Homo sapiens: one gene and its partner. The protein of the gene in region 1 interacts with the protein of each later gene in a biochemical or structural test. Each region holds a gene or a part of one and is shown in the gene's direction. Other genes may lie near its edges. The genes, in order: SLC26A8 and RACGAP1.

The links.
Region 2: the proteins of SLC26A8 (region 1) and RACGAP1 form a complex in vitro, tested with the Homo sapiens proteins (one study listed by BioGRID).

Annotation. Positions count from the first base shown.
Region 1 is NC_000006.12:35,947,809-35,951,732, reverse strand, and holds part of SLC26A8 (testis anion transporter 1), read left to right. Parts: intron 1-233; coding exon 234-288; intron 289-385; coding exon 386-570; intron 571-3,924. UniProt on the Homo sapiens protein: Antiporter that mediates the exchange of sulfate and oxalate against chloride ions across a membrane. Stimulates anion transport activity of CFTR.
Region 2 is NC_000012.12:50,018,679-50,022,602, reverse strand, and holds part of RACGAP1 (rac GTPase-activating protein 1), read left to right. Parts: intron 1-1,425; exon of another isoform or gene 1,426-1,541; intron 1,542-2,796; exon of another isoform or gene 2,797-2,859; intron 2,860-3,924.

The DNA of each region.
Region 1 (3,924 bases):
GTGGTATGCACCTGTAGTCTCAGCTACTTGGGAGGCTGAGGTGGACAAATCACTTGAACCTGGGAGGCGGAGGTTGCAGTGAGCCGAGATCATGCCACTGCACTCCATCTGGGTGACAGAGTGAGACTCTGTCACAAAAAACCAAAACAAAACAAGACAAAAACTTAGCTAATTAGAAGGCCTTTCCTAGCAAGTATAAAGCCTTCTGATACTGGTTTTCTCTCCCCCCACAGATATGCAATGCCTTTCAAAACGCCAACATTTTGATACTCATTGCAGGGTGTCACTGTGAGTATCCTTCACCCTATGAGAGGGCTGTTTTGCACCCTGGGTCCTCTGCTCCCCAAGTATCTGACATTGTGTGTGTTCTGGGTTTGGTTTTTAGCTTCCATAGTCAGGGCATTTGAGAGGAATGATTTCTTTGACGCTGGCATCACCAAGACCCAGCTGTTCCTCAGCGTTCACGACGCCGTGCTGTTTGCCTTGTCAAGGAAGGTCATAGGCTCCTCTGAGTTAAGCATCGATGAATCCGAGACAGTGATACGGGAAACCTACTCAGAAACAGACAAGGTCAGACAAACCGACAAAGCATGAGGTTGGGGGAAGGGATTGAGGGCAGTGGGGGGATGGGTGAGGGGTGGTTGGGGGCTGGGAGTCAGGATTCCTGATCAGATAGAGGAATAATGTCCAGGAAAGGTATTTAGTATGGCTGTACCAGAATCTGGGATGTTGAAATGCACCCTTACCACTTGGTAAATAGCAGTGGATCTGAGCAGCCAAGTGCCCTCACTGTCATGGCATCAGGGTTCCATTCAAGAAATTTCCCTAACTGAAGAGAGGGTTTGCCCAACCCAGCACAGACCTCAAGGATCCTTCTACAGCATTCTTGGTTAGTGTCTATTACCAGTTGCTAAATATTCTAAATGTCTCCCCTAGCTATACCTTTAGAATTCCTCCCCACCCCACCCACTCTTGGGATGAATAATAATACTAATGAACTAGCAGAGATTCAGATCTATAATCTTGTCTAATACCTCAGCTTTATTACCTTTACATTGTTGTGGTATGAGATTTACTCAAGCTGACCAAATGCAAAGGAGAATAATATATAAGTCTGAATTTTCAGCCTTTTATTAATACTGAGACCTGGCTGAGTGCGATGGCTCACGCCTGTAATCCTAGCACCTTGGGAGGCCGAGGCAGGTAGATCATGAGATCAGGAGTTCGAGACCATCCTAGCCAACATGGTGAAACTCCTTCTCTACTAGAACTACAAAAATTAGCCAGGCATGGTGGCGGGCACCTGTAGTCCCAGTTGCTTGGGAGGCTGAGGCAGAATTGCTTGAACCCGGGAGGCAGAGGTTGCAGTGAGCTGAGATCACGCCACTGCACTCCAGCCTGGGCGACAGAGTGAGACTCTGTCTAAAAAAAAAAAAATACTGAGACCTGGGCCTACTTTAGCATTTTCAAATCAGTACCTGTGTAGGTTAAAGGTTTCCAAAAACAAAAAAAGGAAATTAAAACAGATGGGCACTAAAATATTATCTAATATTATCTAATGACTAGAAATCATTATTAAACAAAGCCTAGTTGATGAAATGAGACACCACATCTGAAACAGTTAAGACCGTACAACGGGCGGGCGAGATGGCTCACGCCTGTAATCCCAGCACTTTGGGAGGCCAAGGCAGGCGAATCACTAGGTCAGGAGATCGAGACCATCCTGGTGAAACCCCATCTCTACTAAAAATACAAAAAAATTAGCCGGGCGTGGTGGCACGCGCCTGTAGTCCCAGCTACTTGGGAGGCTGAGGCAGGAGAATCGCTTGAACCCAGGAGGCAGAGGTTGCAGTGAGCCGAGATCGCGCCACTGCACTCCAGACTGGGCGACGGAGTGAGACTCTAAAAAAAAAAACAAAAAAACACACACACACACAACTAGTTAACTGGTAGTTAATAAAAAAACAACTAGTTAACTAGTAGTTAATAATTAGTAATGACTAACTAATTGGTTTGAATTATGCAGTCTGCTTTTACTATAAATGGAAGTTTCTCTATTTTTTAATTTATAATTATGATACTCGATATATTTGTTTTTACATATTTAGTCATATCTATTAATGTTTCCTTTTCTTATTATATTTACTTTTTATTTAGAAAGTCATTCCCTCTTAGAAGGTAAATAAGACACATTTTCTAGATTTTTATGTTTTTATTTTTTATATGTTATACTCTTTAATGTAAATAGAATGTATTTCAGTATACAGGTATTGAAGGGTAATCTTTATTTTTTTTTTATTTTTGAGACAGTCTCATTCTGTCACCCAGGCTGGAGTGCAATGGCATGGTCTCGGCTCACTGCAACCTCTGCCTCCTGGGTTCAAGCGATTCTCCTGCCTCAGCCTTCCAGGTAGCTGGGACTACAGGCGCCCGCCACCACACCTGGATAATTTTTATATTTTTAGTAGAGACAGGGTTTCACTATGTAGGCCAGGCTGGTCTTGAACTCCTGACCTCATGATCTACCCGCCCCAGCCTCCCAAAGTGCTGGGATTACAGGCATGAGCCACTGCACTCAGGCTTAATCTTTATTTTTTATCTATGTAGCTAACTATTTTGGGCTATATGCCATCTATCTTAGTTCATTAGTGCTACTATAACAAAATATCTGAGACTGGGTAATTTGTAAATAATAGATATTTATTTCTCACAGTTCTGAATGCGAGAAGTCCAAGATCAAGGTCCTGGCAGTTTCAGTGTCTGCTGAGGGCTTCTTCCATCTTCTCTCAGCAGCATCCCCACATGGCAGAAGGTGGAAGGACAAAAGGGTTTATGCTAGCCCTCCAGCCCTTTTATAAGGCACTAATCCATTCACAAGGGCAGAGCCCTTATGACTTAATCACTCCCCAAAGGCCTCACCTCTTAATACCACCACAATGTGGATGGATTTTGGAAGCCACTCATGCAAATCATACCACCATCCAACCATCTATTGAATAAGCCTTCTTTCCCCTACTGATATGTTATTTTCATAAAATATTATATTCTTATGAAAACTAAAGTGTATTTCTAGTTTAGTTGTGGATGTCATTTTTCTGTATAGCTTCAGTATCACAGTGTTTTTTGTTTTTGTTTTTGTTTTTTGAGACAGAGTCTCACTTTGTCGCCCAGTCTGGAGTGCAGTGGCACAATCTCGGCTCACTGCAACCTCCGCCTCCCAGGTTCACGTGATTGTCCTGCCTCAGCGTCCTGAGTAGCTGGGCTTACAGGCATGCGCCACCACACCTGGCTTATTTTTGTATTTTTATTTGAGACGAGGTTTCACCATGTTGCCCAGGCTGGTCTCGAACTCCTGACCTCAGGTGATCTGCCCACCTTAGCCTCCCAAAATGCTGGGATTACAGATGTGAGCCATCGTGCCTAGCCATCACACTGTTTTTATTAGTATTGCTGTATAATACACTTTAACATTTGGTTAAGAAGTCCTATGTCATCAGTGTTCTATTTCAAAATTTGCTAAGTCATTCTCACCAATTTATTCTTCCAAACCAACTTTTGAATCTTTTGTCAGGTCCCCACCCCACAAAAACAAATCTTATTGAAATAATCATTAGAGTTGTATTAAAAATATAAAATCCCTTGAGAATTTATATCTTTATAGTATTCATTCTTCTTATCCAGAAACATGAACTGTCTCTACATTTATTGTCTTCTTAAATGTTTCATTCATAGTAAGGTTTTGTGACTTTCTTCACATGGGAAAATCTTAGATACTTTATATGTTTTACTTTTTTGTTTTTTTGAGACAGGGTCTCACTCTGTCACCCAGGCTGAAGTGCAGTGGCATGATCACAGTGCACCACAGCCTCGGCCTCTCAGGCTCAAGCAATCCTCCAACCTCAGCCTCCTGAGTATTTGGGAGTA
Region 2 (3,924 bases), on another chromosome or scaffold:
TTTTCGTTTTGTTTTTTTTTGAGACAGAGTTTCACTCTTGTTGCCCGGGCTGGAGTGCAATGGCGCCATCTTGGGTCACTGCAACCTCTGCCTCTCGGGTTCAAGCGATTCTCCTGCCTCAGCCTCCTGAGGAGCTGGGATTACAGGCATGCACCGTCATGCCTGGCTAATTTTGTATTTTTAGTAGAGACAGGGTTTCTCCATGTTGATCAGGCTGGTCTCAAACTGCCGACCTAAGGTCATCCACCTGCTTCAGCCTCCCAAAGTGCTGGGATTACAGGCGTGAGCCACCACACCTAGCCTGTTTTACTGTTAACTTTTTGAACATAGAAGATTAATAATAAACAGTATTTTTGTATCTGCTAAATGAATGTTATAGATAATAAAGGAAATCATTTTGGACTGAAATGGTTAGGGAAGGCTTCAGTGAATTGGTGAGACTTATTCTAGACCTTGAAGGATGGAAGACCAGAATAGGAAGAATTCACAGGGAAAAAAAGAGGTATTCAGTATGCTGAACTTCTAGTAATTTTCTGAAAAATCACAATTCAAATCTTCCCTTCCTTATTTTAGTCTTCATGTTGGATTGAGAACATTTTGTTTACTCTCTGCAAGTGATTTGCTTATAAAGAACATTTGGTTTCAAGATAATCCTTCTGTCCGCCAGTTGTATTAGAGACTTTCGATACAGTGAAGCAGAAGCTGGACATTTCAGGAAAAGAATTGTCCTCACATTGTCCTCAAATGTGTTCCTATGAAAGGATCTTAAAGTACTGAGATTATCTTTGAGAATGGTTTTCCTTGACAGCAGGGAATCTATATTGTTGATTTCTTGGAAATCTCCAGATTTAGCAATGTTTGTGGGAAAGTTTTTCATTAAAACACTTTCCTGAAAAACTCCAGCAACCTTTCATTGCTTTGTCTTAAAGTATTTAACACCCTTGATGCATCTAAAAAACCTGATATATAGGTCTCTTAATAATGTTGTTTGAAGGAGGAGGAAGAAGAGGATAGAGACTTTTCCCAGGATACCCTGCAGTAAGATCTGTAATAGTCTGTTTTTCTGAAGGATGATATCTACCTCTTGGCTGGGTGATTGAAATTAAATTGGGGGCTCAAAGCAATCACATCCAGCTGAGACTCTTTCATGGTGTTTCCAGATTGCTCCCTTAGGGATACTCACAGATTGGGAATCTGTAACATACTGACTTCTCCACCTCTGGGGTTCCCCATCAATAACAGCTGAGATTCTCTAGCACCTTTTGGTTTAAAGTGCTCCACAAACTGAGTTTCTTGCTGCACGCAGGGATCGTTTCAGCTTTCCCGAAAAGGCAGCAGTCTCTGTTGTGGAAAGTGACAGCTGTTTTACAGCTGCAAAAGCAATGTACTACAATATGACTTTGTTTTTGTTTCCTTTCACATTAGTGTATCTCCTAGCTATGGACTAAATAATACATGGGGGGAAATAAACAAGTATTCATGAGGGTGAAAATGTGACCCAGCAGGAAAATTACAACTATTTTCAATTGACGTTGAATAGGGTGAGTAAATTTTAGCTTTTTGAGTTACAATTTGGCTGAGATATCAGAGTTAGTACTGATATAGAAAGATATTTTTGTCATCTATAAATAATTCCTGAGAGTCACTTCTGTAGAATGTTAATAAAAATATATGGTCCCCTAGCATATAAAGAGAAGAGGATTATATTCTGCTAGTGCCATTTTTGGATTACCCTAAGTAAATCTATGTTAGAGGAAAAAATAACTCTTCAGAAGCAGCAAACCTCATCTAGAACAGCTTGTTTAAAAGCCTAGACCTGGCCAAATTTTGCTGTTTCCTTGATTCTTCTTGGTCTGGGTTCCAGCTATAATTTGTGTTTTATATGTGTTGCTGTTTGTATGACATGTTATGGTTTGCAGGAGGTCTCTGAGTAGGTCTGCAACATATATGGTCTAATTGATATTTTTGTAACTTATCTCTTCAATGTGTTGGGTTGGAGAGAATATAGATTTTGGACTCAGACCTGGGTTTCAATGAGAACTCGACATTTATTGGTTAATTTAAGGTTTCTGGACTTAGTTGCCCATTGTCTGTAAAATGGAGATAATTAAGTTAGTGAGGCCAGGCATGGTGGCTCACGCCTGTAATCCCAGCACTTTGGGAGGCCGAGGCAAGCAGATTGCTAGAGGTCAGGAGTTCGAGACCAGCCTGACCAACTTGGTGAAACTCCATCTCTACTAAAAATACAAAAAAAAAAATTAGCTGGGCCTGGTGGTGGGCACCTGTAATCCCAGCTACTCGGGAGGCTGAGGCAGGAGAATCACTCGAACCCTGAAAATGGAAGTTGCGGTGAACCGAGATGGTGCTACTGCACTCCAGCCTGGGTGACAGAGCAAGACACCGTCTCAGAAAAAAAGTCAAATTCACTTAAAGAAAAAGTGTACGTGAAGTGTCTAGTTTAGTGCCCGAATCATTTCAAAGCACCTAGTAAATACTGGATTCTTTTCTTTCTAATTGTATAGTATTATTTTTAAAAATGGTCTAAAATTCTGAATTTACTGATATCCTTATTTGGAGACAGCCTAGGGGGGAAAACACCTAGATTTGAGAATCACTGTTTTAGGATGGAAGTAACAACTATCAGACCAAAACCAAACCTAAACAAAAGAAACTCACTTCATACCAACTAAAAGATACCTTATATTTTGGTAGTGAGATTGTAAACTTATACATTTTAAAATTTTTGTAATATTCTATGAGGTAAATAGAGCAAGTGTTATTGTTTTCACTTTATAGATGAGTCATGGAATTTAAGTGATTTACTGAAGATTATACTACTGGTAGATAGAAGAGCTAAAGGTTTGTCCCAGGACCTTTTTATTTATTTATTTATTTATTTATTTATTTTAAGAGAAGGGGGTCTTGTGATGATCAGGGTGGTCTCAAACTCCTAGACTCAAGTGATCCTCCCACTTCAGCCTCCTGAATAGCTGGGACTACAGGCACGCACCACCACACCCATCTTGTCCCAGGACTTCTGCTCCCTCTCCCGCTTTTAACTGTTCTTTTTGCTTTAAACTATATTACACGTTGATGTTGAGGTAGAATGGAAATTCTTTTGACCATAGCATCACAGATATGTGTGTGTTTGTTCTCTGAATTAACACTTATCAATTTTTTTTTGTGAGCATCATATTAAATGCTACATGCTTGTGTGTGTAATATAGTAGTGCCGCATGTAAGGTTTCTCCCCTCAAATTTATATTCTAGCTGGGACACAGGGCAGAATCATATGGTAAAGTTTAATTCAAGTGCAAAGAGTTTGTATCTGAGTGGCAACTGCCTGAAGCAGTAGGGGAAGGACTGGAGGAAGGGAGTGCAATTGAAGTGAGTGGTGACAACCTGCAAGTGATAAGGGGGTGGGTATGGTAGATACATGAGAGAAGAGTACACAAGGTTTAGTGATTATGCTGTGGGAAGGGGAGGAACCAGAGGTGATTCTGAAGTTTGGAACTGAGCGACTGAGAGAATGATAAAAATAGGGAAATCAAAATTGGAAGTCAGTAGGGTATGGGATAGGGTAGGTCAGTGAGTAGCGTAGTTGATGGACATGAACAGGAAGAGTAGAACAGTGTCAGGAGGCTGAGGCCGGAGAATCACTTGAACCTGGGAAGCAGAGGTTGCAGTCAGCTGAGGTGGCGCCAGTGGACTCTGGCCTGGGGGACAGAGCAAGATTCTGTCTCAAAAAATTAAAAAAAAAAAAATGGACAAGAGAACAGGTTATATTGTAATTTAAGACTTAAAACCCCCCCTAAAAAAGCTTTTTTTTAAACAACCAGTTTTCAACATCCTAGCACCATGAAATTTTCCTTTTTGAATTCTTGGACAGATAGAAGTTTTGCCGTGGTATTGAGCTGTCTTATA